Linked DNA regions of Homo sapiens: region 2 is linked to region 1. Evidence: fine-mapped expression QTL. Tissue or cell type: macrophages. Region 1 holds a variant in brackets; the other region holds the start of a gene. All regions are shown on one strand. Distances are from middle to middle.

Region 1 (7,801 bases):
ATATGCCGAACAGGTATTATCCCTTAAATGAGTTATTGCATTAAATCCTCACAATAAACCTATAGGACACTGTGAACATTTTCATTTTATTGAGGTTTAGAGAGATTACAGAATTTCTTCGAGGTTACATAGCTTGAAAATGGTATGGCCAGGATTCCACCCAGGTCTGTCTGACTTCAGAGTTGAGACTCTACTGCTTTGATCTCCAAACTCAAAAAATATTTGGTGGCCAAATAAATGAATGAACTTCCATTTGCAGAAATTTGTAATTAATTCATCACTTTTCCTAGAAAAGAAAAGGATTTCTGAATTCACAAACATTTCCCTTAGAGAAAGAACAAGTACAAGTGCCTATGAGATTTATTTTACTCTATTTCAAAGATGCACCATTGTTCTATATACCAATTGTTTGTTGATTATAATTATAGATATCAGGTATGTATTAATATATGTATCAACTAAAATTATAGACACCATTGATTACTAGTAGTATCCCAAATTTAGAGACATTATAGTGTGTCCCTTAGAATGGGTAATAAATGTAATGTGTGAATATATAGGTTTTCTGTAATGCAATGCGAATTTTTTTCTGTAAGTTATGAGGCAGTACCATGCAGTGGTTAAGCACACAGACTATGGAGACAATCAGTGTGCCTGGTTTCAAGTCCCAGTTGTCTACTTATTAGCTTGTAGTCTAGAGAAAATCAGTCAGTTTCTCTGATTTTAGATACTTCATCTATTAAATGGGGATGAAAATAATATCTTCCTCTGGATCATTCAAGATATACTTCATTAGACCTAGTGAAGCATTTTTAGTTTAATTTCTAGAGCCTTTTGCAAAATATGGATCGGATCCATTGCTTAAAATACCTATCAGCTGTCAGAGGACATATTTCTGCTTGTATTTTTTTTTCAAGTTTGTCTTCTAGTTCAAAGATTTTTAACGGTTGTCAGGAAGTCTTCTTCAGTCCTATGATGCCCTAAAAACAGCCATCCTATCAGGTTATTGACCCTCACTGAGCTTATGGTAAGTTCGAACATGATGTTAATGAGACACGTTTCCATCCACTCACTTCCCACTATAAGCTAGTTAATTTTGCGTAAAGAAAACCTCCCATCCATAACTATAGCCTATAGTTCTCATTCCTTCCATCTAGGCAGGTTCTTGCTCCATATCTCTTTGCAATTGGAAGATATATATTCACTAATATTTTCTTGCTGTCTTGCTCTCTCTTCCACCTCATCAGTTAGTCTTTGCACAAATAAGCCTCTTAGCTCTATTCACAGAGCAAATGAACAGAATTCATCTTTGTTAGATGAGGTCTATGGCCCAGTGGATCTATTTGGAATATGCCAGACTATTTGTTAACTAGGGTGAGTTATAATGCATTTTTGGAGATGAAAAAAATGATGTCTTTTGCTCTCCTAGGAAATGTTTTTTAAGGTTAACTTTAGGAACTATAAGATGTGGGTTTTGTATGATTTTGTTGTTTGCAATTCTGACAGCTAAGAAAGAATAAAGATGCTAACAAAGGTTAACTTTGAACAGAGGATGTAAGAATGACCATTGTCTTTTTTGTACTCTTCTACATTTGAAACATTCTCCCTGGGAAAAGGATTCTAAATTCCTCCACCTGCTTGAAAAGGTCAGAAACCTCTTTCCAAAAATACTTTTTTATCCTCTTAATGCAATAGTCTCAACCCTGGCCACTCGTTAGAATCACCTGAAAACATGTTTTTAAAATCTCATGCCTGGAAGGATATGAACAGACACTTCTCAAAAGAAGACATTTATGCAGCCAACAGACACATGAAAAAATGCTCTTCATCACTGGCCATCAGAGAAATGCAAATCAAAACCACAATGAGATACCATCTCACACCAGTTAGAATGGCGATCATTAAAAAGTCAGGAAACAACAGGTGCTGGAGAGGATGTGAAGAAATAGGAACACTTTTACACTGTTGGTGGGAGTGTAAACTAGTCTGACCATTGTGGAAGACAGTGTGGTGATTCCTCAAAGATCTAGAACTAGAAATACCATTTGACCCAGCCATCCAATTACTGGGTATATATCCAAAGGATTATAAATCATGCTGCTATAAAGACACATGCACACGTATGTTCATTGCAGCACTATTCACAATAGCAAAGAGTTGGATCTAACCCAAATGTCCATCAATGATAGACTGGATTAAGAAAATGTGGCACATATACACCATGGAATACTATGCAGCCATAAAAATTGATGAGTTCATGTCCTTTGTAGGGACATGGATGAAGCTGGAAACCATCATTCTCAGCAAACTGTCACAAGGACAGAAAACCAAACACCGCATGTTCTCACTCATAGGTGGGAATTGAACAATGAGAACACTTGGACACAGAGTGGGGAACATCACACACCAGGGCCTGTCATGGGGTGGGGGAGGGGAGAGGGATAGCATTAGGAGAAATACCTAATGTAAATGACGAGTTAATGGGTGCAGCACACCAACATGGCACATGTATACATGTACCCTAGAACTTAAAAGTATAATTTAAAAAAAAATCTCATGCCTGGAACCAAACACAAAGATTCAAATTTAATGTTCTTAGGTGAGATTTGAGCATTATTATTGTTTAAAAGTGTCCCCCAGTGATTCTGATTTGCAGCCAATGAAATCCAATGAACTAATGTGTTGCCTTATCTAACTGTCTCTCTGATCTCTTAGTTCCTTGAGAAATGAACTAATGGTAATATTTCATTTTATTCCTTATGGAACACTCAACTAATATTTGTTGTTTGATTGAGACTAAGAGGATAAATAGAGACATGATCTGGACTTTACAATACAATGCATGCCATTGTAATCCATCAGAGATATGATTGGATTTTTTTTTGTATTATATCTCAGTGCCAATAATTTATTTTTTTATTAGCCTTGAGCTAAATTTTAATGCCTCTCTCTGTTACAGAAACTAGAAATTTTACATCCCTGACTGGAATAATAATATAACATGCTCCAGGTCCCTCATCAATCTGTTCAATGAATAGATGATTGGCTATATGCCAAGGGAATCTGCTGCCCTCTGGAGGGTATTGTGCTGTTAGAGATGAAAACACCGTTTCCCAGTGGATATTCCAAGGCACATGGGAAATTATGAAACAAAACCAATGCAACAAAAGAAAAAGGTGTCATGGTCATTTGGAAAATTCATAGCATTTGAAAAATGCCACACACTCTATCTCTCTGTAGGAAAGTCACACTGCAAATTAGCAAAACAGAGACTGAGAAGTTCTATAATAAGATATTTGTTTCCCAAACTAATTGGCCCACCTCCCATCCCACATACACACCTAATTTCTGTTAATATTTGGGAAACTAATATTCTACAAATAATATTTTGTATTCATAATCTACAAATTAATTAAATTAGGTATTTGGAGAAATTGAAGGAGAATAACTTAATGAAGGATTTCTTAAATAAACTACCAAAAAGGAAATATTGATGAAATGAATACATTAAAATGCAAAGATTCCGCATCCTATGCCATGACATATTAACTGGAGGGATGCAATCTGATGTGGCAGTGTGATGTGCCATGCTATTATATTCACGTTTATCTTTCTTCTTAGTGCTTATCCTAATGAAACATTTGAGATATTTATACCATTGCATAACAAATGGGCTTGTCATTTGTGCTTTGCAATAGAAGATGTTGACTTCAAGTACTATCATATTAGGTTAAAGATGTGTGAAGGATAGGCTGGGTGTGGTGGCTCACGCCTATAAATCTCAGCACTTTGGGAGGCTGAGGGGTGGATCACTTGAGCCTAGGAGTTTGAGACCAGCCTGGGCAATATGGCAAACCCCATCTCTACAAAAAATACAAAAATTAGCTGGGCATTGTGGCTTGTGCCTGTAGTTCCAGCAACTTGGGTGGTTGAGGTGGGAGGATAGTTTGAGCCTGGTGGATAGAGAGGGACAGAGGTTGCAGTGAGTTGAGATTGTGCCATTGCACTCCAGCCTGGGCGATAGATAGAACCAGACCTTGTCTCAAAAAAAAAAAAAAAAAAA[AAG/G]ATGTATGAAGGACAGCAAGAGGCTAGGCAAGGCATAATGGAGTTCACCCTGAAGTTCAGTTAGTACAGAGTGGAGGCCCCAAGTATGCAACTCGGGCCGGAAAGATGACAAGTTTGGTGGAAATAAAAAATGTGTAGTCAGGAGGCTTGGGTTTCATTCTTTTGTGTCACTAATTTTGTGATCCTGGCTAACTACATAAAATCCTCCTCATCTGTAAAAGGAAATCATGCAGAGCTGTCTAACGGTTGAATGAGATACCACATATGAAAATGCTTCATACAGCCTCTGACATCATAGGCACTCAACGAATACAAGTTCAAGGTAAATATGATTTGTGAGCACAGAGAAAACACCAAACTAGACAGTCAAGAGGTCAACACAAGAGGAAGCAAAAACCACAGGATACATCTAAAGTGACCAACCATCCAGGCCAAGTTTGCCAGGGATGGTCACAGTTTTAGCACATAAAGTCTTGCATTTGGGGAAACCAGGTAGTTTGGTCCTGGGAAAACCAGGATGGTTGGCCATCCTAGCTCAGAACCTAGAATAGGAGCGCAAACAACAAGGATTGGACCCCAAGAAAAAACAAATGGCCAGAACGCAGGAATGGAGTATGGAAACACTAGGAATAATGGTCCTGATGCTGACCAATATTTCTCAGACAACAGATAGCAAAACAGGCTCAGCATGTGAGTAGGGATGAACCCATAGGTGGAAGTCAGTATACACACCTGACTTAACTGAGGGAACCTCAGGAGCCAGGTAGTGCTATGCAAGACAAATCTTACAAAGTTATTATTTTTTTCTTTTTTAAAGATCTGTCACTCAGGCTTGAGTGCAGTGGTGCCATCAAAGCTCACTGCGGCCTAAAACTCCTGGGCTCAAGCAATCCTCCTGCCTCAGCCTCCCAAATAATGCAATGGCAGACACATCACTGTGCTGGGCTAATTTTAGAAAAGTTTTTGTAGAGATGGGAGTCTCACTTTGTTTTCGAGGCTAGTCTCGAACTCCTGGCCTCAAGCAATCCTCCTGCCTTGACCTCCAAAAGTATTGGAATTACAGGTGTGAACACTGTGCCTGGCCCCAAATTAATTTCATAAGTGACTTTGGTGATGAGCTAAAATGAACAATGAGGAAAGGATGGTTTCTTCAATAAATAATGCTAGGACAGTCATTATCCATGATACAAAAGGAATCGAATTTTCTACCTCACACAATACAGAAAAGTTTATAATTTAGAAACCTAAATAAGGAAAAAAAAACTTTAAACATTTTAAGAGAAAATAAAGGAGAAAAGCTTAATAAAGATTTTAAGGCCAGGCACAGTGTCTCAAGCCTGTAATCCCAGCACTTTGGGAGGCCGAAGCAGGCAGATCACTTGAGGTCAGGAGTTCGAGACCAACCTGGCCAACATTGTGAAACACCATCTCTACTAAAAATACAAAAATTAGCTGGGCATCGTGATAGACGCCTGTAATCCCAGCTACTTAGGAGGCTGAGGTAGGAGAATCACTTGAACCCCAAAGGCAGAGGTTACAGTGAGCCAAGATCGTGCCACTGCACTCCAGCCTGGGCAACAGAGCAAGACACCGCCTCAAAAAAAAGGAAAAAGATTTTAAAATAAGCAATAAAAAGGGAAAGATTCATAAAGTTGATTATTTTTTGTTTATTTATTTATTTATTTTTTTGAGACAAAGTCTTGCTCTGTCGCCCAGGCTGGAGTGCAGTGGCACAATCTCGGCTCACTGCAGCCTCTGCCTCCTGGGTTCCAAGTGATCCTCCTGCCTCAGCCTCCTGGGTAGCTGGGATTACAGGCACACACCACCACGCCTGGCTAATTTTTGTATTTTTAGTAGAGACAGATTTCACCAGGTTGGCCAGGCTGGTCTCAAACTCCTGACCTCGGGTGATCCACCTGCCTTGACCTCCCAAATTGCTGGGATTACAGGCATGAGCCACCGCGCCCAGCCAAAGTCGATTGCTTTAAAATGAAAAGATGCCATGAACACAGTGAACAGCCAAGCCATAAACTGAGAAACAATATTTGCAATATATCAAGCCTACAAAGTACTTATATCAGCAAGTACTTAAAGGAAAATGCCAGCAATCCAGTAGGCATAGAATAGGAATAGGCAATTCACGGAAGAAACTTCAGTAGTAAAAACATATTTTTAAAAAGCTCGGCCGGGTGCGGTGGCTCACACCTGTAATCCCAGCACTTTGGGAGGCCGAGGCGGGTGGATCACAAGGTCAGGAGATCGAGACCATCCTGGCTAACACGGTGAAACCCCGTCTCTACTAAAAATACAAAAAATTAGCTCGGCGTGGTGGCAGGCGTCTGTAGTCCCAGCTACTCGGGAGGCTGAGGCAGGAGAATGGCGTGAGCCTGGGAGGCGGAGCTTGCAGTGAGCCGAGATCGCGCCACTGCATTCCAGCCTGGGCGACAGAGCGAGACTGTCTCAAAATAAATGAATAAATAAATAAATAAGTAACTCAGTTTTACTACTTGTCAGAGAAATGCAAATTGAAACCACAATGAGATAAGATTTTACATCAAGCAGATTGTCAGAAATTAAAAAGCCTGGCAATACCAAGTGCTGGCGAGAATGTGAAGCCACAGAAGTTTTCTTACACTTCTACTAGGGTGTAAATTGGTACAACCATCTTGGAGAGCAAATGCTCAATAGCTAGAGATGTTTTGAAAGTATACACTTGTGCAATACCTCCTCGTTGTGCAGTCTAGAGAAACTCGCAAATGTGTGCACAATGGGTCACGTATAAGAGTGTTCACTGTAGCATGGTTTGTAAGAGCAAGAGACTGAAAACACTCTGAATGTCCATCAGCTGTAAATTAAATAAATTGTTGTACAATTCATTCAATGGAATGCTAACATACAGCAGTTACAGTAAATGACTGAAGTTAGATGACCAATATCACGAAATCTCCAAAGCATAATATTAAACTAGAAAAAGTAAGTTGCAGAAATATTTGTACCATATGGTATCCCTTATATCAGCTATAAAATATGTGCAATATTATAAATTTTATGTGTACACAAATATGTAATAAAAATACAAAAAGTCACAGAGATAATAAACCAAATATTGATTACTTCTAAAGAGAACAAGATGGACATGAAATCAGAAATAGTTAATAAGGCATCAAATGTGTCTATTACATTTTATGTTTAAAATATCTGATGTAAGTAAAGCAAAACGTTAAGATTTGACAGAGTTGGGTGGTAGATACGTAACTGTTATTTCATTCTCTAGACTTTTCTGTAGGCGTTAAGCATTTTATTTTGAAAAAATAAAAACAATGTTATTAGCATTTAAATTCAGATTATTTCAGAATTACTCTAAAATATTTTTAAAAGCAAAACTATGCTTTCCGGAGTTGGCAACTTAACAAAGCCAAGTTTAACAGTCTGTTCAAAGAAAGTTAAAGTATGCCTTGTCCTGACACATATTTCACTGCCACTTAACCAACACTAGATGTCACTTTACTTCATGCATTTCATTTGAGAGTTTCTGGTTGAAATTAGATAAACTTGGGTATGTTTTATCATTTTCTTTCTCCAGTAGATACAGAGAATTATGAAAAATGAAAATGTTCTCTGCTATATATCCATCCAGAAAGACAAAGGACACGTGTATTTGGGTTTATCCTTTTATCCTTGGCACATACTGCTTATAATAGGGTTGCAAAAGTATTGTTAACCAAATAAACAAAGG
Region 2 (5,000 bases), 40 kb before region 1:
TTAGTTAGGTGGAGGAAGGAATGGAAAATTATTGTTTAATGTTTAATTGTAAAATTATTGTTTAATGGAAAATTATTGTTTAATGGGCAAAAAATTTCACTTTTGGATGGTAAACAAGTTCCAGAAATGGACAACGGTGATGGCTGCAGAACAATGTGAAGGTACTTAATGCCACTGAATTATACACTTAAAAATGGTTAGAGTGGCAAAATTGTAATGTATATTTTACCACAATAAAAAGATAATTAATTACAAAAAAACCCACCAAAACACATGGCTGAATCATTTACAGAAACTCGTTTGACAGACATACAGTCAGTTCAATTCCTTTGGCAGATCTGTCTTTCCCCTGAAGGAATGAATTTCCTCAATAGCTTTGGTGTTGTGCCTTTAGCATTCATTAAAAGACTCAATAATTTCACTTGAAAACTTTCTTTCAGGGCTAAATGATGAGAAATGTTTTGTTTTCTCCAGCAAAGTAGTGTGTTTCCCTTATGGTATTATTATGAATCAAGTGTCTGAGCTCTTCCTACTTTAACTACTAGGAATAAAATCTGTAGCTGAATTCTGGTTTAAGTCCATGTCTTGTACCTAGTATATCACAGTATCCCTCCTGGCTTTGACTTTATTTTTGAATTTTGCCGTATATTTGTCAATTTAATTGTATGTATTCTTATTAGTCAGACTAAACCTTTGAGAAATAAGGTGAAGCAAAATAAATGCAATGTTATGACCTTTACAGCTCTTTAGCTTACCTGCATGTTCATGTAGCCATCTACAGATACCAGATAGCCCTTGTACTCCATTCCCCACTTAAGTTTCACCATCACTGGCTTTCCTGTTAGTCCATTGAGGAAAGGTTTGGGATTGAGGGGTAAACTCTGCACAAAGAACAAAAAAGGATCTAATTAATTATTTTTCCTCCCACCACCAACTCTCTTCTACCGAATCACCAATATTTTGTGGTATGCAAATGAAGAAAACTTTTGACTCCTTATTATTTTAGTACATAATTTTCACTTTTATTTGTTGAGAGTACCAGGGAAATTTAAATATCCAGTTAGCCAATTTCACCTTTAACCCATCAAAACAAAACACTGACTATTCACTTAAGATACACTGACTACCTACATCACTCACTGTTCTGAGCTCTAAAGAAACAAAGATAAAGGCACTAAAAAAAAAAAAAAAAAAAAGCGGGCCAGGTAGGGTGGCTCGTATCTGTAATTCCAGTAATCTGGAAGGCCAAGGCCGGGGGATCACTTGAGGTCACGAGTTCAAGACCAGCCCAGGCAACATAGTGAGACCCCCATCTCTACCAAAAATAGTCAGGTGTGGTGGTGCACACCTGTAGTCCCAGCTACTAGGGAGGATGAGGTGGGAGGACTGCTTGAACCCAGGAGCTCGAGGCTGCAGTGAGCTATGATTAGGCCACTGCACTCCAGCCTGGGCAACAGAGCAAGACCTTGTCTCTTATAAATAAATAAATAAATGAGTCCCTGTCAAGAAGTTGGAGATGGGGAGGGGAACTCCTCACATACAAATAATTATATTGCATGCTGCACTGTAGTAAAAGGAGATATACTAGGCACAAGGGTACCAAAGCAATCCAGGGGAAAAAGGAAAGGTTGCCTGAAATAAGTAATACCTCAGTTTTAAAGGATAAGAGTTTATTTCCAGAGCGGGAAAAAATGCTGTTCCAGGCAAGGCTAGCTACTTATGTAAAAGGAGGGAAGAGTGATGCAACAAGGTGGTTTTGGGGACATACAATTCAGCATTGTCAGTCAAAGCCCCAAATATAAAACTACAGAAGGAAGCAGAGGGCAGATCACGCTTGACAGTATTTAACTGGGGAAGCTAGGGCTAGGTCCTATCTGACTTTGTCAGTAGCACCGCCTCTTACTTACAGCAATTACTTAATGTCTATTTATTCAGCAAACCATTAACATCTCCAGTGATTTCGGTTTTTGCCCTCTTCTGCTCACTCACCAGTCAAACAAAGAAGAGAACTAAGAAACTTGGCTACTAACCCCCTCTAACATGAGCATATTCGGAGTGATCTTGATATGGCGATTACTCCAATAACCTAATGGGTCTCCAGTTTTCATTCTCCAATTTGTTATCCACCACAGTAACTATGATTTTTTAAAGTGCACATCAGATTGTCATATTTCTGCTTAAAATGATCCAATGGCTTCCAACCGAATCATTTTAAATTGATTTGGAGTACAATCAAAACCTCCCAATACAGCCTAAGAGGTCCTGCCCAACGCCTGCTCCTCCGATACCATCTCTTAACCACTATTCGCGCAAGTGGCTATACCTTTCTGTCAATTTCTCCAAATGACCAAGCTTTCTTTCCGGCCGCAGGTCTTATGCTCCTATTCCCTGTGCTCGGTACACTCCTCCTCCTGCTCTTTAAAGGGTCGTATTTCATGACACTTAGGCTTCGAGTTAAATTCCACCTCCTAGGGAGGCCATCTCTGACTAAGCCTCTAATGTCTAACGCGCACCCTCACAGCCTCCTGTCTGCATTGTTCTTAGCACTTATTATTTGCAATTACATACTTGTTATTTTTTGACTAATGTCTGTCTTCCCCACCCAAGTGAGTTAATCTAGAGCATGGCCGTATCATTACTTTCACGGAATGAAAGTGAATTCTGGAGTGTGGTTAAGTGGGAAGTGCAAATTCTCTTTGACTTTTACCCCGACCCTATAGCCCCAACTAAGAATACCCCAGGCCCGGATTCAAACAAAGAGAAGAAGGCACGGGCACTCCTAGGAAAAGAAAGGCATCGGGAGGAGCACGCGCCTCAGAAACCTAAAAGCAGAGTGAAAGGAGCTGGCGACAGGGTGCGCGGCGCCTCACGCGGATGAATGGGAAACGCGCGAAGGAACCAGCAGGCCCCGCGAGGCTGGTCTCCCTCCTTCTCTTTCTCCCCGCTTCTCCCGCCGTTCTCTTTCTCCTTACCATCGTAACCACGGCCGAATGTTGCAGGCTACTCTCTGCCGACCAGGCCGCCGCCCGTCCCTCGTGACTACAGCAGGTACCGCAGGTCCCGAGCCGCAGTTTCAAGAGAAATGGCCGCCAAACAGGACTATGACCTTTCACCTCCCACCACGGCCCTTCCTGCCTCTGTGATTGGACGCAAAGAGGTGCGTGCTGATTGGAGGAGATGGCTGGCCCAGTATCTCCTAGCAACCAGCAGCGGCTTGGGTTTGCGCCTTGCAGGCGGCGCGCGGACCTTGGGAAACCGGCTCTGAGCATCGCTGTGAGGCAGCCAAGGACTGGAGGCAGGCCGGTGTTTTTAAATGTGGTGTCCTTCCTAGAGGGCGGTCTGGGAGAGGCTGTGTAACGGATGTGACTTCTCCCCAACTTGGCTAATGGGGATTTACTTTGTCTTTTTACACCCGTGAGAATGTTCGGGGTCCCAGAGTTCCTTCCTCACTCTTCCAACAGGTTCCATGATTTGGGGGCGCCTCTGCCGCAGGCCCTTTCTACCTGAGTGTTCTCTCTTCTGCAACACCCGTTTTAACCCCTTTTAAAGGAATTGGGGGCTAGCCAGACTAGACTAGGGGCGGCGAAACGCACTGAAGAGAGTTGGATACAGAATTTCTTGCAAACGAGGTCGAGTTGCGTCTGGGATACGGTGTCATGCCCCACCCCCGCCCCACGACCCTGCCGGCCCCACCTTTCTTTTGCTTCGCCTGCAGAAACCCGCACGGCCTTCATACGTGCATTTGAAATTACCTAAGGGCGTAAGCAATATTTCCTCTGTCACGGATTAAAACTTTCGATGTAACGGTGTTATCTGAATCTCACTAGTTTTTGTCGTAATCCTATTGAGTTCGGGTCACTCTGATCTGAAATGCTAAATGCAGTTCTTGGAGAACACGCCCTTTGGGAAGTAACGCTTTTTTGCGGCCCTGAAGAGATGGATTTGGAGTTGAGGATGAAATGTTGGGTGTTGAGGCATTGTGGAGCAGTGGGCAAGACTTTGGAGGGGGCCTGCATTCGGAACCTGCGTCTATCAGGCGCGGCCGGTGTTGGGCAGTGTCTTAACCCCGAGGGCCATTGTTTCCTCGGCAGGAACGCGGCTTTAAAAACGGAACCATCCTCAGGGTGGTTGCGAGAATTTAACGTAAAACGGGGCTTGGCCTTGTAAAAGCTCAGTGTTTCACGTAAATGTTGAACACTGACCAGACAATGATTGTCAGTGTAGTTTTTACCAAACAGTTATTAGATTTATTCACCCTAAACTTCAGTGGATTTCTCCGTTTGTCTATTGTTTTATGAACTTTAAGTCTTTGTATAGACTTTGAGTTCCTACTATGTGTCAGGCTTTTTCAACAATCGTGGAAATCTTACCTTACTGTCTGATTCGGGGTGACAGCCCCGTTTAAGAGATGAGGAAGTAGGCCCAGCAGGTAACTGTTACCAGTTGAGGGTAGCTGTCCGAGTTCTTGGCGTTTTCAACAAAGAATTGGACAAAACGCACAAACAAAGCAGGGCAGCGAAAGCAGAGATTTATTTTAAATGAAAGTACACTCTACAGGGTGGGCACCGCCTGGTGCAAGCGGCTCAAGAGCATTGGTTATAGAATTTTCTGGGCTTTAAATACCCTCTAGAGGTTGCCCATTGGCCCACAACCAGTCTGATTGGTTGCGGGAGGGGACCAATAAGAGGTACTTTCATTTTTCAACTGCCACGCAGAAAAAGGAGGGGTTGAAATGGGAGTAGCCTCTGATACCCAGTCAGCATGGATGGGCCCTAGGTTCCCTGCTTCCAGCCGCTATTCTTCTGCCTCATAGCTTGCTCAGGACCACATACCTGGGTTTCAAAACTCTGCTTTTTCTACTTCATGAAGCTACCTTTCAAAGACTCAATATGTGTTTTAGAAGCCTGACTCTTTAGCTGTTTTCTCAGTGAAGTGAAACGAAATACTACAGTAAACACATTCTGTAAAGATAGTGTATTTAAGGTTGGTTTTTCTTTTCA

Which allele goes with the higher level. Positions count from the first base shown, and alleles are read on the strand shown. Sizes are in standard deviations (SD) of each study's normalised expression.
For the expression in macrophages of the gene that starts at base 3,097 in region 2, allele G in region 1 goes with a lower level than allele AAG (moderate effect, 0.63 SD a copy in Alasoo 2018).

The links. PIP is the estimated chance that this variant, and not a neighbour inherited with it, causes the effect.
Region 2: it holds the start of SNRPF, and the variant in region 1 is fine-mapped to the expression of SNRPF in macrophages (Alasoo 2018, PIP 0.95).

What each region holds. Positions count from the first base shown.
Region 1 is chr12:95,815,574-95,823,374 of GRCh38, reverse strand. All of the region lies in intron 2 of SNRPF-DT (SNRPF divergent transcript), which reads left to right. LINC02410 (long intergenic non-protein coding RNA 2410) reads right to left here. Exons shown (of 2, transcript NR_135016.1): 2 at 61-286. Among named protein-coding and RNA genes, the nearest start is that of LINC02410, 16 kb to the right of the region's middle. The variant AAG/G (reference allele first, on the strand shown) is at 4,064.
Region 2 is chr12:95,857,049-95,862,048 of GRCh38, reverse strand. It overlaps SNRPF (small nuclear ribonucleoprotein polypeptide F), which reads right to left and starts at 3,097. Exons shown (of 4, transcript NM_003095.5): 1 at 2,973-3,097; 2 at 756-881. The coding sequence starts at 2,975. It overlaps SNRPF-DT (SNRPF divergent transcript), which reads left to right and starts at 3,210. Exons shown (of 3, transcript NR_135014.1): 1 at 3,210-3,295. RefSeq lists enhancers at 2,775-2,824, 2,855-3,084, 3,205-3,264, 3,315-3,374, 2,773-3,388.